2 separate regions of the Homo sapiens genome follow, and region 2 is linked to region 1. A link means that fine-mapping ties the variant in region 1 to the expression of a gene that starts in the linked region. Tissue or cell type: transverse colon. Region 1 holds a variant in brackets; the other region holds the start of a gene. All regions are shown on one strand. Distances are between the middles of the regions.

The links. PIP is the estimated chance that this variant, and not a neighbour inherited with it, causes the effect.
Region 2: MPEG1 starts here. The variant in region 1 is fine-mapped to the expression of MPEG1 in transverse colon (GTEx, PIP 0.94).

Annotation. Positions count from the first base shown.
Region 1 is chr11:59,814,456-59,822,563 of GRCh38, forward strand. No RefSeq gene overlaps it. Among named protein-coding and RNA genes, the nearest start is that of MRPL16, 7.7 kb to the left of the region's middle. The variant A/G (reference allele first, on the strand shown) is at 3,145.
Region 2 is chr11:59,208,377-59,216,484 of GRCh38, forward strand. It overlaps MPEG1 (macrophage expressed 1), which reads right to left and starts at 4,551. Exons shown (of 1, transcript NM_001039396.2): 1 at 134-4,551. The coding sequence starts at 4,489. The coding sequence ends at 2,339. DTX4 (deltex E3 ubiquitin ligase 4) reads left to right here. Exons shown (of 9, transcript NM_015177.2): 9 at 1-212. It also overlaps the pseudogene RN7SL42P. RefSeq lists an enhancer at 4,528-4,727.

The DNA of each region.
Region 1 (8,108 bases):
AACAAGGTTGAGGATGTGTGCCCATGACACAGCCTCAGGAGGTCCCGATGACATGTGCCCAAGGTGGTTAGAGCACAGTTTGATTTTATACACTTTAGTGGGAGATGAGACATCAGTCAACATATGTAAGATAAACATTGGTTTGGTCTGGAAAGGCTGTACAACTCAAAATGGGGAGGGGACTTCCAGGTCATAGGTAGATAAGAGACAAATGGTTGCATTCTTTTGAGTTTCTGACTAGCCTCTCCAAAGGAGACAATCAGATATGTATTTATCCCAGTGAGGAAAGAGGTGACTTTGAATAGAATGGGAGGCAGATTGGCCCTAAGCAGTTCCCAGCTTGACTTTTCCGTTTAGGTTAGTGATTTGGGGGTTCCAAGATTTATTTTTCTTTCACATTTTCCCCCTTTTCTTTTATTAAAATGTTTTGGAGAGATCATTTTATGAGGTTTGACAATGTGATGCTTTTATGGTGCACTTAAAAAAATTTTTTTAATGAACACATATCTTAGTGTCTAAACCACGCTGTTCCTTAAAAACAGAGTAAGCTCTGTTGCAGTTAACTATTTTAGTCAAAAAAACCAAAACAAAACAGGTAACACAATACAAAAGCAAACAGTTTAAGAGCTGAGATGAACTTGTCTGTTTACGTTCTTGGGGTCCCATAAGAAAAACAGGTTTCTCCCCCAAAGGGAGTCTGGCACTTTCTCAGTTTTCTTTAAGGAACCCCAGGCTATTATTAAACTATTTTAGGTCCCCTATGCAGCAGAGGGGGCAAGATAAAGGAGAGACAGAAGTAAATGAAGAAACCAGAATTCAGTCAACTGAGTGGGAAAAAACTTTTGCTCAAAAAAAGACAGGGTCCTAGGAGAAAAACAAAACAAAAATGTGAGGGCCTTTTAAATACAAACACATCCACCTGCACACATACATATACACATCTTGGATGTTAGCTTCTAATTAGGGTGACTTTTAACCATTGAGCTCCTTTTAAAATAGATGTTTTTAAATCTTATTACTGTATTTCTGTTCTTTCAGAAGTACAGCCATTGCTCTTTCAGTTTGGCTTGGCTAGCAAAAGGGTGGCCTTGTTATGTAAATAAAGCTCCTTAAGTAGTCAAAATAAAAAATCTTTTCTTTTTTTTTTTTTTTATGGGAATTTAGCCACTTCAGAGGCCTCGTTCCCCATAATTTGGAACATTCCCTTGGATTTGATCAAGTTGGATAGAATTGGTCACACCCAGTGGGAAAAGACTGAAACAACAACAAAAACAGAAACAAACAACAACAACAACAACAAAAACCAGTTAAGCAAAACAAGTGATCGCACAACTTATGTGATCACTGAGCACTCTAATGGTAAGGAGAAATTAAGACCAGTTGGTTGTTAATTTTAACTTTATCCAAGACAAATCCCAATTCAGTTACTTACCCAGGGGTGGCTCTCAGGCTGAAGACTGCTCTTTACTATCCTAGAAGCAGCAAAAAACCCCCTTCATCTTCCCTGTTGGAAGTAGCTCAAATTCCATAAAGGAGTTACCTACCTTCCATTGTTATGGAAGCAGGAAAAACTTGCCTTCCTTGTGTTGGAAGCAAGTAAAACTCCAAAAAAAAAGGGGGGGGGGTTTATACAGCAAAATAAACTTTAGATCTTGACCAAATTTTGGGAGATCAGGGATTCTCTGGAGGGGGTGCTCCCAGACCTCAGCAAATTGTCCTTTTGGTTTGAGCCATTAAGTTAGCTCATGCTGGTACCAAGGACCGATAGATTTGTCAAAGGTAAGAGGCACCTCCACTCAGAATCCCCCTGTGGTTACCAAAATGTGAACCCTGAAAAATCTGAGACAGGTCTCAGTTAATTTAGAAAGTTTATTTTAACAGGGTTGAGGATGCGTGCCTGTGACACAGCCTCTGGAGGCCCTGACGACATGTACCCAAGTTGGTCACAGCACAGTTTGGCTTTACACATTTTAGGGAGACATGAGACATCAATCAACACATGTAAGATGAACATTGGTTCAGTCTGGAAAGGCTGTACAACTCAAAGTGGGGAAGGGGCTTCCAGGTCACAGGTAGATAAAAGACAAATGGTTGCATTCTTTTGAGTTTCTGACTAGCCTCTCCAAATGAGGCAATCAGATATGCATTTATCTCAGTGAGCAGAGGGGTGACTTTGATTAGAATGAGAGGCAGGTTGGCCCTAAACAGTTCCCAGCTTGACTTTTCCCTTTAGATTAGTGATTCTGGGGGCCCAAGATATTTTTCTTTCACAAAACCATACAGGAAAAGTTCCACAACATTGGCGTGAGAATGAATTTTTGGAAATGACCTCAAAAGCACAGACAACAAAAGCAAAAATAGACAAATGGGATGACATCAAAGTAAAAAGCTTTTACACAGCAATGGAAATAACTGACAAAATGAAGAGACAACAGACAGAATGGGAGAAAACGTTTACAAATTAAACAGCAGGGGTTAATATTAAAAATGTATAAGGAACTCAGCTCAACAGCAAGAAAACAAATAACCCATTTAAAAAATAAGCAAAGGACCTAAACAGACATTTCTCAAAAGAGGACCAACAAAGAGCTAACAGGTACATGCAAAAATGCTAAGCATCGCTAATCATTAGGGAAATGCAAATTAAAACCACAATGGGATATCACCTCACACCTGTTAAAATGGCAATTATCAAAAAGATGAAAGATAATACGTTGGCAAGTATGTGGAGAAAATGATGTAACTCTTGTACATTGTTAGTGGGAATGAAAATTAGTACATTATTGTTGTAGAAAATGGGATGGAAGTTCCTCAAAAAACTGTGTGTGTGTGTGTGTGTGTGTTTGTGTATGCATGCATGTGCATGTACACTATCTTTTAATACACCACTTGGGTTTTTGCTGATCAAAATGTAACCACAATGTCATAATAAATTACCTTGAAACTTCTTCACTCCAAGTGTGCAGAGCTCCTCAAGGGACTTGTTAATGTTAGTTTCCTCATCAATTTAGCTTCTACGGACCGATTGTGGTGGCTCATGCCTGTAATCCCTGCACTTTGGGAGGCCAAGGTGGGTGGATTACTTGAGCTCAGGAGTTCGGGACCGGCGGGGCCAACATGGTAAAACCCCGTCTCTACTAAAAT[A/G]CAAAAATTAGCTGGGTGTGGTGGTGCGTACCTGTAATCCCAGCTACTCGGAAAGCTGAGGCAGGAGAATTACTTGAACCCAGGAGGCAGTGGTTGTAGTGAGCCGAGATTGTGCCACTGCACTCCAGCCTGGGTGACAGAGTGAGACTCCATCTCAAAAAAAAAAAAGAAAAGAAAAGAAAAAAAATTAGCTTCTACATGCTTTAGAGCATTTGTAAAAGGGCAATGATACCATAGATTTTGCCAGAACAAAAAACAATATTCTCTAATAAAATATTAACCATTAACATATTAGCATGATTTACTCTTTACAAAGGACTTTCACATGCACATAGATTATTTTACTGGAATCCTATTATGTACATGATAATGGTGGATATAACACACAGAAATCATTAAGATTATTAAGATCATTGCACAGAGCTGGGATTTCCATTCAAGTGTCTATTCATTCAACAAACATCTCTTGAGCATCTACTATAGTGCCATGAGCAAAATTAATGTGTCTACACTTATTCCAGAGGTTTCAAGGTAAATTAAATTCAGTCTCAACTGGAAGAGTTACTGAAGTTTTACAAGAAAGCCATTTCAGCTGTTCTCATCTATTAAGTCAACAGGTGCAAAAAATGCATCAACTCTTTAATTGTGTGACCAAGAAGAAAGAACAATGCCAATTAATCTTATTGTTTTCTGTCTCAGTATTCATGGGCTATATTAAAGTATTTCTATGAATGTGTTCATCATAATGAATCATTATTGCTGCTCAGTTAAATTATTTACAAATCTGTTATTATAGGCCATGCTGCAATAAGCAGCCTTGTACATTTTTGTTATTTTGTATTTCTTTTGGGCACTTTCAAAAGGAGAAATTTATGGATCAAAGGGAATGTTCATTTTATGTCTTTTGACTTTATACAGTTGTGCAAAATTGGCCTCCATGATCAGAGTGTTTTCTTGATCAACACCCTTGCTAAAGAAGGATATTATAATTTTTCTACGGCTTTGCCAATATGAAAGGTGAAAAACACCACTCGGTGTTACATTTATAACAGGTTGTTAAAATGCGATTGTTTCTGCCTCAGTTTTGCTTGGGACCACAAGGTAATCTCCACATTTCACAGTGAGGTGCTGGGCCTTTTAGGCAGTTTATGCAGCAGGTGGTAGGAACTGGCTTTGCTATTTTTAGCTGCCCATTCTCTGCCAGCCTGTAAAAAACACTAGAAAAGCCAAGAAAGGAAGTGGAGACTGGAGATTATAATAAAGATTTCGTTAACACAGTTGTTGGTGTACTGTGAGTTTCATGCCTTCCCCTCTTCAATGGCAAGGGTTGGGGGGTGCTCCATCAAGCCCAGTGAAAGACATTTCTAGATCATTCAGAGAGTTTAATATAATTCTTCTGCAGTTTAAGGGACAGTGGGCTTTGGGGTTTGACACTGGCTTGAGAAAATGATATGTTTGGAGGCTGGTAGAAGCTGCCTGTGGCATCAAAAGTAGAGAGCTGCAGTTGCGAAGTAGCCACATTTCCATTGATGGTGGGGCAAAGGCATGCATGTCCTGTTGACTAGGTGTGGACTCCATGACTAGGTGTGGACTCCTGTGTAGAGTGCCAAGGTAGGGTTTCTTACATCAACAGAACTGCATCAAAGACAGGGAGAAAGAAGTTGGAGTAGGTGTGATGATGGATGTCCTGGGCCTGAGGGAAGAATTGTGTGCAACCAGCCAACAACTCAGCAGAGATGAATTTGCCTGCATCAAGGGAACAGCAGATGAGAGATCCACAGCAGGTGTGTGTGTGTGTCCGAGTGTGTGTGTGTTTGTGCATGTGAAACATTTGATATCTTGAAGTCCTGACCCCTTGTACTTCAGAATGTCAAAGAGAGGTCCTGGAAAAGATCCTTCCTCACAGCCCTTAGAAGTGACAAGCCACCCTGCAGACACCTTGATTTCAGACTTCCAGCCTCCAGAACAGTGAGGCAATAAGATTCTGTTGTTTAAGCCACCCAGTGTATGGTACTTTGTTTGTTTAGAGACAGGATATCACTATTAAAGCACCCTCTTTCTCTCATGAGTGCTTTATGAATTCTTCTTTAAGAAGGAAAGTACTGCTGAGTGCTGTATTCGTTTCCTAGAGCTGCCATGACAAAGTATCACAGGCTGGACACAGTGGCTCACACCTGTAAGCCAGCACTTTGGGAGGCTGAGGTGGGAGAATTGCTTGAGTCCAGGACTTTAAGAACAGCCTGGGCAACAGAGTGACACCCTGTCTCTAACAAACAAACAAACAAACACATACACAAACACACAAACGAACACAAAACAAAGTACCACACACTGGGCGGCTTAAACAACAGAATCTTATTGCCTCACTGTTCTGGAGGCTGGAAGTCTGAAATCAAGGTGTCTGTGGGGTTGCTTGCTGCTTCTAAGGGCTGTGAGGAAGGATCTTTTCCAGGCCTCTCTTTAGCGTGGAGATGACCGTCTTCTTCCTACATCTCTTCACATCATCTTTCTTCTGTATATGTCTGTCTGTGTGAATGCAAATTTCAGCGAATTGGATTAGAGCCCATCCTAATGACCTCATTTTAACTTGATTACCACTGTAAAAATACTGTCTCCAAATAAGGTTACATTCTGAAGTGCTAGGGGTTAGGTCTTCAAGATGATATATTTTTTGAGGGATCCTATTCAGCTCACATCAGGTGCCACCATCCCAGAGGCATCGTAAATAGTGAGAGACTGGGGATAGGAAAGATCTTACCTGATTAGTAAAAGTGCAAGATGAGGAAACAGGTTCACCCCATGCTCCCCATTTTGTTTTTACTATTATCTCTTTGTCTGAAGCAGGGCCGAGCTGGGGGAGGAGAGTCACTTTTCTTTTAAATGGAATTCAGAGTTGTGACTGTTACACAGAATCAGACGTTTTAGGTCCTGAAGTGAGAATGTTTTCTGTGATTAGAAGTGACAACACAACTTTTTAATTTTTATGTTTTAAATAAGAGAGTAATGAGAAAATACAAAAACCAAACAAAAAAAAAAAACACACACAAAAAATCAAACCCAACCCAGCCTCACAGAGTTGATTTGGATAACCAGTAGTAAACTAAAGTTGATTTCTGATGACGTTCTCTGAATTTTACTTAATATAACCTACATACTGATTATAGGTTAGTTTGCATTTCCTTAATGATAAGTGATGTCAAATTTTTTCTCATGTCCTTGATTTCACATATTTTTGTCTATTTGTTTTCTGTATGTGTGATTTGCTTGTATACTTAGTCCATTTTTTAATTATTTTGCTTTTTTTCTTATCAATTCAAAATTGCTTATGTATTAAGTATATTACCTCCTATTAGGTTGTATATGTTTTATTTTTATTTATTTATTTTTTTTGAGACGGAGTTTCACTCTTGTCATCCAGGCTGGAGTGCAGTGGGGTGATCTCAGCTCACTGCAAACTCTGTCTCCCAGGTTCAAGTGATTCTTCTGCCTTAGCGTCCTGAGTAGCTGGGATTACAGGTGCCCACCACCAGGCCCAGCCAATTTTTGTATTTTTAGTAGAGACGAGTCTTCACCATATAGGCCATGCTGGTCTTGAATCCCTGACCTCAGGTGATCCACTGGCGTCGGCCTCCCAAAGTGCTGGGATTACAGGCATGAGCCACTGTGCCCAGCTGGTTGTATATTTTCATTTTTTTCAGTTTTCAATATATCTTGATTGTTTTTGAAGTAGGACCATTTATAATTTTTATGCAGTAAAATCTGTCAGTAATAGTCTTAAGAATTTTGACTTTCAGCCAGGTGCAGTGTCTCATGCCTGTAATCCCAACACTTTGGGAGGCTGAGATGAGTATTGCCTGAGCCCAGGAGTCCAAGACTGGCTTGGGCAAAACAGCAAGAGTCCATCTCTACAAAAATAAAATATTGGCCAGACTTGGAGGCTCATGCCTGTACTCCCTGTTGCTTGAGACGCTGAGGCAAGAGGATTGCTTGAGCCCAGGAGGCTGAGGCTGCAGTGAGCTGTGATTGTGCCACTGCACTCCAGCTTGGGCGACATAATAAGACCCTGTCTCAGAAAAAAAAAAAAGAAAGAAAAAGAATAAGTCAAATATATTAATAATAATATTAATATTTGACTTACTTTGATAATTCAAAATATATTGATACTGCTTATAAAGGCCAGAGGTAGGGATATAACATAATTCTTTCTCAAAGTTGAAAATTCTCATTTAATATGTGACTTTATTTATTTATTTATTTTTTGAGACAGAGTCTCACTCTGTCGCCCAGGCTGGAGTGCAGTGGCGCGATCTCGGCTCACTGCAAGCTCTGCATCCCGGGTTCATGCCATTCTCCTGCCTCAGCCTCCTGAGTAGCTGGGACTACAGGTGCCCACCCCCATGCCCGGCTAATTTTTTGTATTTTTAGTAGAGAGGGGGTTTCACCGTGTTAGCCAGAATGGTCTCGATCTCCTGACTTTGTGATCCACCTGCCTCGGCCAATCAAAGTGCTGGGATTACAGGCGTGACCCACCGCGCCCGGCCTATTTATTTTTATTTTTTATTTTTTTGAGACAGAATCTTGTTCTTTTGCCTAGGCTGGAGTGCAGTGGCGTGATCTCTGCTCACTGCAGCCTCCGCCTCCCAGATTCAAGTGATTCTCCTGCCTCAGCCTCCAGAGTGGCTGGGATTATAGGCGCATGCCACTATGCCTGACTAATTTTTGTAGTTTTAGTAGAGATGGGGTTTCACCATATTGGCCAGACTGGTCTTGAACTTCTGACCTCAAATAGTTCATCTGCCTCAACCTCCCAAAGTGCTAGGATTACAGGCGTGAGCCACCGGGCCTGGCCTTAATATGTGACTTTATAATGTACTAAATTCTCACAGCTTTCGGGAGTTCCTTTTGACATTTTCTTCCATTCACATGCTCTGAGACTGGTGCTACATTGTTTTAGTCATTGCCAC
Region 2 (8,108 bases), 610 kb before region 1:
ACAGACCACATTGCTGGGAAAATGAGTAAGTGAACGTGTGGGAGAAAAACACTTTTAGAATCACGAATATTCACTTTTAAAGGTCTCTTTGCCTGGCTGCAATATAGTGTGTGTTTAAATTATTTACAGGCTGTTGTTTCTCAAATAAATGTTTAATATTAATCATTCCCAAACTGACAAGAACACAAAAATAAAATGCAAATACAGAGCCAGCTTTGTCACCCAAATCTGTGTCTATTTCTGATAGTCCATGGAATGTGGTTTTCTTGGAAGCCAGGGTTGGTCTCCCCACAGACCCCAGGCTAAGGTCACCAGTTAGGAACCCAGGACTTGGAAGGCAGAGCCTGTGAGCTCTTCCATCAGGGATCTGACTCCGCAAAACGACTTGATGAATGCAATTGGCAAACTCCCATGTTCGGACTTCATATGCATGAGCCGTTGGACAGAGGGTTTCTTAGTATATACTTTAATGCATGTTTATGTGCAATCTTGTTAGTGGGTATACAAGTTTGTGAAGAACTTCTCATTTCAATAGGCAGTTAATGTAATGCATTAAAAGCCTGGGAATTTGGGGCTATATTTTTCCTTTCTGACTCAATAATCTTCAAAGAATTCATAGGAAAGTCAGTACTTGCAGACAAGTGGTTAGCTTGGCTAAAATGTACAAAACACCCAGAACCCACAAAACACTCAGAGGTTTAGGAGAATGTTTTAATGCTTAAGAGGCAGGATCAAGTGAAGAGGTTACAGAAATCAGTGTCTCTGGCTGGGCAGTCAAGAGAGCGGGCTCAAATTCTGTGACTCACTTCTCTGTGTCTCGGTTGGAAATGAATGGGTATCCTGGTTCCCACCTTCCCACACACTGTGATACTTCAAACTCCTTGGGTGAAGGGCCTCTTCTCAGCCCAAGATCTTGATTGTGAACATTAACAAAGAGAACAGTCATCCTCCACAGAAGATAACTCATTAATGACATTTGATTCAGTGAATAAATATATCATTTAAAAAAATATTGTAGGGGGATCATGAAAGTAGTGGAGGTAATTACAATCAGGAGAGATTGGTATTAAAATTGAGCAAAGTCCCAACTCTCACCAGATGACAATTATGCATCCTGCTAGATGCCCCAGGGCTGTCAGCCTGGAACTGAAATAAATGTGTTATAAGTGGTGCTGGATGCCTTTTTCAGTTCATTTGAAAACATGGATTTGATCATGTCAGCTCCCTTTCTGCTGGAAAAAAAAGTAGTTTGCATAATTGGTGTTAACTACTCTGTTTTGATTCTACAGAGTAAGTAATACTCAAATGTGGTCTTACTTTAACTTCTTGCCTTTGTTACCCCCAGAACCATGCAGACATTGAAATGTGGTGTGCGTGTGTGTGTGTGTGTGTGTGTGTGTGTGTGTTCATATAACAGGAGGACAGGAAAGGTAAGGACCCAGAACAATGAAGACTTATTGAAATGTGGTATGTGTGTGCGTGTGTGTGTGTGTGTGTGTGTGTGTGTGTGTGTGTGTTCATATAACAGGAGGACAGGAAAGGTAATGACCATCCATGGAAGATGAAGGGGTAGTACTTAGCACCAGAATCTTTTCCAGTTTTTACCCATCTTTCATTACTCCTTGTCTCCAAATCATCCCTTCCTTAATAACTTAAAATAACTTAAAATATTTTCTGAGGACTTGATGACACCAGTCAGAAGTCCAAGAGTGGTCTGGTATAAGGGAGTGTTCATCAAGGGGCAGCTGGAAAAAGTGGAATTGGCACAGGCAACATCTTTCTTTTCAGATGTTTGAGGTCACCCAGAGGAGATAACAGTCTGTCAACATAGAGCCCTCAAAGTTAAAAAGCAGTAGCCAGGCAAGACTTGTGTCTTTTCAGGGCTCTTCCAGGCTCTAAGAGTGTGAAATTCAGACAGGTTTTTAAAAATCAAAATAAAAGGAGAGTAGTTCTTACAGGCAGAAACTCTTAGAGCTCACAAATTGGAAACAACTGCAAACTTCAGAGTAAATTCATAGCTTCCAAATACAAATGTTCACATTGTCCCTCCGCTATTTTTACACAAATGCATTCAGGTGAAGACAGCAACACACATTGGGAAAGGACATCTGCTTCCTATTTTAGTCCCAGAATCACTTTTGCTTCTAGTCCCAACTGTTCCCTCTCCCCAATCCCAACCTTATCCATGTAACAGTATGAATTTCCTGGCCCAGAGACCTAAACAAGAAGTCACGAATATACCTACTTTTGGTTGCACTTGCCATTTCAATGCTTAGGAAAACAGAGTGGTCAGCAATGACCACACTGGAGATGAGAGAAACCATTTTCGGGGAGAGATTTAAGCTGGACTCTGCCCCTGCTCTTGGTAAGTGGTGTCTCCAGTTGCTGCAGTGCCTGGAACCAAACTCTGCCTTTCCTCAATTGCCTGATATGCTTTCTTCTTGAACTTCCGGGTGCCGTAGATGGCCAAGGTGATAACAACAGCCAGAATGGTGGTGACCCCCACTGTGACCCCAGCTGCAGCCCCTCCTGACAGACCACCACCATCCCCATGGATGACATTCATGGCCCTCCGCAGCTCTATCGGTTCTCCCAGCCTCCACTGGTGGGTCTGGGAGTCTTTAATCCAGGATCTCGCATTCTCAGAATTGGTCACTATGACAGTATTGGTGGCAGCCTGACTCATGAGGGGTGGCCGGGTGAAAGGTGGGAGCCTGGCAGGGGGCAGGGACCCTCCTGTGAAGAGCCCGGATTTGACGCAATAGGACACTTGGCATCCATCGCTGATGAGGGCTGGGTGCTGGCTGAAGCCCCCGGGGCACTTTTTCAGAGACGGTGCCCCTAAATCTCTGGATATAGCAGGATCTACCAGGGGGTTCCCAACTGTGCAGCTAAAGAACCCGCCAAAGGGGACCGCAAACCTGCTTCCCAACTCATAGTCCTGAGAAACACATACCTTGAGGTTTTCAAAGAGTCTCAGTGGAAAGTAGCCGGCTGGGCATGACTGTGCATTTGTCATGGGGTTTATGCTCTTGCTGCTGAAGAGGCCCCCAAAAAGCAGTCCTGAGTTTTCAGGTACTTGGCTGCTGGCCACACACCAAAAAGCCCTAAATTCAGCTTTTGCCACCTGGAACACATCTTCACACACGGTCTTGCAGAAGACGAGGAGAGTGCACTTTCGATGACACTCCAGGTGGTTGTAACCCTCCTCGTGGATCTGGGATAACAGGTGCACCGGGGAGTAGCCAGAGGGGCAGGAGAAATCACCAGTGAGTGGATTCTTCTGCTCCAACTTTTGGCAGAGGAGGACATCCCTATTCCCTGAGAGCTGAGTGCATTCCTGATAAACCCCACCGAAAGAGAAGTTGGTCATTTTCCCCTCGCAGGAGCCATCATCCGTGTTGGCCTGAAAATTGAAGTTGGGAGAATTGAGATCTGTGCAGCCAGGGTAGGTGTTGAATGTATAATAGCGCTTCACAGCAGTTTCCACTGTCTTTGACACCTTCTTCACCAGGGGGCCTGGCAAGTCAGGTAGCATGTTGGGGTTGATGAAGAAATGCAGCGGCAGGCCAGAGCGGTCGATGGCCACCAGGTGGTTGGTGATACCCTGCTGCCAGGCCTGGAGGGTGATGCCTGGGTAAAAAGGAACCCCTCCAATGCTCTGCACCCTGGAGTTGGTTCGGTTTGAGAGGTAGCTCTTGGTGAGGACATTCTGCGAGGTATAGTTTTCCTCAAATTTGAAGTTCACGGTGTTTTGAAAGGCAAGTCCAGCAGAGGCGGTCACGGCACTACGACTGCTCTGGCTGTCTTGGAGGAAGGAGGCCCTGAGGTGGTCCTCCTGAATAAGAGCAGCCCCAGCGTCGACACTGGTGGTGACGTGGGTGCCATAGTTGAGCACCAGGAGTTCTGCCAGGTAGGTGGCCATCCTCGTCTGGTTGTTCTCTAGACGGTCAGAGATGTCAAGGAGTTCCTTCCTAAAACCTGAGCTTAGCTCTAAAGTTGGGTTGATTTTGACTGTGTAGACGAGGTTTCTTACCTGAACTCGGGTAGTTATAGCTTGGTCCTTCACTTGGAGGGTCTTCATCCTCTGGAACTCAGTGGAAAACTTGCCATTGACTTTGGAAAAAAGAGAGAGTTCTGTGTTGATGGAGTAGGAGGTGCTACTCTGGTAATTTGCCCAGGATTCCAGGATTTCTGAGTTCATCTCCAGGTTGCTCTGTTTCTGGGGAATGGTGAAGATTTCATCAGGGATGATATACTGTCCATCCTCTGTTGTCCTGCAGTTGGAGTAAGTCAATTCCATAACTCGTCCCATGTCCACATTCCGCAGATTGTCCCAGCCCCCTCCAGGTAGGACTTCCAGGACAGGTAGTTTCAAGGCATTCTTGCATTTTTGAACTCCAACTTCGTCCATCTCTCCCGAAGGCTTGCCTGATTTAGCCCATGCTGCCGCTGCCCAGAAGAGGATGGTGGCCCTGAAGTTGTTCATGGCTCAGACAGCCCCAGCCACTCACCAGCCCTACACAGCGGCCAGCAAGCTTTGGGCAAACTAAGATGGAGAAAACAGAAGCAGATGATGAAGCGGAAAACTCATGAGTTCTCTAAAAGCTACAAGTTCCTCTTTAAGCTAATTTAATGACAAAATGGGGAAACGAGAGTTGGTTGGAATATTAAAGACCATCAGGTCTTTGAAGAATTTATGCCGTACTAAACATGCAAACACACCCCTACATGCCTAACAGGTAGCTATCCTAATTTTTCCCCCAGCTCTGGCTGGTTACTCTGCTGCAGGGGTGTGCACTTAGAAAAAAATCCCGACCCCACACCCTACTGCTTCCTCCACCAGAAAGTTTGGCTTTGCTTTTTGCTCATTCTCTTGGACTTGATGTTTCATATTTTCCCTGACTGCTGTCTCTTGGGACTCCATTATCAGTTTTCTTTTACTATAAATGCAGAGGCAAATGACCACACCACCCTTACTGAAACACCCTGGCTCCACCATACCTATGCAAGCTGTTAGTCAAGGCCAACCCTGGGTTTCCTCTTTGCCTGAGGGTGGAGGCTGTTTCCACAAAAGAAAGGAGTGAAACTCTTGGACACTTGTCCTGTGGGTTTCACTGTTATGAACCATAGCAATTCTGTCTTTGGGGATGGCATTGTCTGGAGCACAGCTGACAGGGCCTGAAGAGGATTCGGTTGCAATATGCTGGGAAACCCCAATTTGCATTGTCCTAAGCATTCAAAGCGAGGGCAAGGAACTCCTACACTGTGTTGTTTTCATTCAGATAGAAATGTTCAAGACAAAACCACACTATTATCTAGATTTTGATTTATCAACAGCAGACAGGGGCCAAGGAACATATGTGTATGTGTACACACATTTATATATCCTCTGTGTGTGTGCATTTTGTATGAAGTTGGTACCTGTTATACCTTTAATTTTTTGTTCCATTGCTAAGTGTGTGTAATCAGTTTAGGTGGATAAAAAAGAATGTGGCTCTTCACTACCCAATATTTTTTCTAAAAGCAAAAATTCATTTGCTATATCATTAGAAGAATATAATTACATGAGTTTCTTTTCAAGTTCCAATGCCAGCTCTATTAGAGCCCATAATTTAAAACAATGGTGACAGGTTTGATTGAAACCCAACTCTGTTAATTCTTTGGGACAATTAGGCTATGTCTTAGTATGCTTAGTGGTAGCCAGGGAATCCAGAGGACTTAGTGAAGCTCCCAGTTGCATCCTTAACATTCCCAAGATTATACCATGAACTAGATACAGTACTGAGACTGAAAAAGTCATGTTGCAATTCACAGGTATCACTACACCATCACCTGTATGCATCCTGGAAGGAAGGTTCCAAGGAGTTGAATTCCTCTGTTGGTTATTAATGCAGCAAAGAAGTGTTTTTAGAAAGAATGAGGCTAGTTATCTTGCTTCCCAGGCTGGGCTTCACCAGTTATTATCAAAACCATGATGGTGTTCTATAAATCTAGAAATACTGCATTCCGGGTATATTTTTTTTTCCAAGACAGGGTCTTGCTTATTGCCCAGGCTTGAGTGCAGTAGCTATTCACAGGCATGGTCCCACTACTAATCAGCATAGGAGTTTTGACCTGCTCCATTTCCAACCTGGACCCGTTTAGCCCTCCTTAGGCAACCTGGTGATTTGCTCCAAGGAGGCCACCATATTGATGCTGAGCTTAGTGCAGACACCCAACTGGCATAGCACACTACAGCCCAGAACTCATGGATTCAAGCAATCCTCCCACATCAGCTTCCCAGGAATCTGGGACTGCAGTCATGCACCACCACACCTGGCCATTCTGGTTCTATTTGTGCCACAGTTATCATGCTTCTGGGAAGTGACACCAGCCACCTAAGAGGGATTAATTTATGAACCAGTGCCTAGTCTGTATTTGGCTAAAGAACCAAATCTTTGCACAGGATGTTCTAGTTAATTTATAAATCAGTTAGCCATAAATTTATACCTCAGCAGCATGATCCCAGAATTAGAAAAATGAGAGTTGAATGCCCTTGAGTACTTCCAATAAGTCTGTTGAAATACCTACATACTTCTCTTCAAACTATTTCTGGGATGGTTCATCAAAATTAGAATACTCTCACACTGCTTTGGAGACAAGCTGACAATTTGTTACCCTCTGCTTTCTCTTTAGTAGACCCTGTTGAGAGCTCACTCTCCTGAAATGAGAATACAAGCAAGGTTAATACAGACAATTCTATATTCAGGTGTTCCTATGTCTCCAGACGTCTAGTCACTGTATTTTTTATTCTATAGACTTTGTCTTCATTTTATCATAGGAAAAAAAAATTGAAAATAGCAGAAAGAGCCAACAACGGTAAAATTACATTGTACCCATAAGACAAAATATTGTATAGCCATCACAATTATTTAAAACTATTTTAATAACATGAGAAATTCTTATGCCATAATGTTACTGGAAAGGGTTCCCAATGCAGACCTCAAGAGAGAGTTCTTGGACTTTGTGCAAGAAGGACCAGGGCAAGTCCACAGAGTAAGGTGAAAGTAAGTTTATTAGAGAAGTAAAGAAACAAAAGAATGGCTACTCCATAGGCAGAGCAGAAGTATGTGCTGCTTGATTAAGGATACTTATCATTATTTCTTAATTATATGCTAAACAAGGGGTGGATTAATCATGAGTTTTCTGGGAAAGAGGTGGGCAATTCCCAGAACTAAGGGTTCCTCTCCTTTTTAGACTATACAGGGTAACTTCTGGAAATTGGCAGTCATGGCACTGGTGGAAACATCTTTTAGCATGCGAATGCACTACAATTAGTGTATAATGAACAATGAGGATGACCAGAGTTCACTCTTGTCGCCATCTTAGTTTTGGTGGGTTTTGGCTGCCTTCTTTACTGCATGCTCTTTTATCAGAAAGATCTTTGTGATCTGTATCTGTATCTTATGCCAATCTTCTATCTCATCCCATGACTTAGAATACTTAACCCTCTGGGAATGCAGCCCAGCCTTCTTTTACCCAGCCCCTATTCGAGATGGAGTTATTCTGGTTCAAATATCTCTGACAATAATGTTATGAAAAAAAAGAATGATAAACATTCAGCATGACCCCAACTATGTACATAACTAGAGGGATGTACGCCAATGCATAGACAGTAATTACATCTGGTTGAGAGGTTTTTCTAAATTATTTTAATTTTTTCCTCTTTTCTGTGTTTTTTGAGTTTTCAACAATGAGCATGTATTTATTAACTCGAGAAATTTGTATTCAGAGCCTATTAAGTACCAAACACTGATGGGTATTGGGTAATCATCACTTTTGTGCTCAGGAAAATAACCAATGCACAACCATGTAAAAAAAAAACAAAAGAAACAGGCCAGGCAGGGTGGCTCATGCCTGTAATCCCAGCACTTTGGGAATCCGAGGTGGATGGATCACTTGAGGCCGGGAGTTCAAGACCAGCCTGGCCAACATGGAGAAACCACATCTCTACTAAAAATACAAAAAAATTAGCCAGATGTAGTGGTGACACACAACTGTAATCCCAGCTACTTGGGAGGCTGAGGCAGGAGAATTGCTTGAACCCAAGAGTTCGAGGCTGCAGT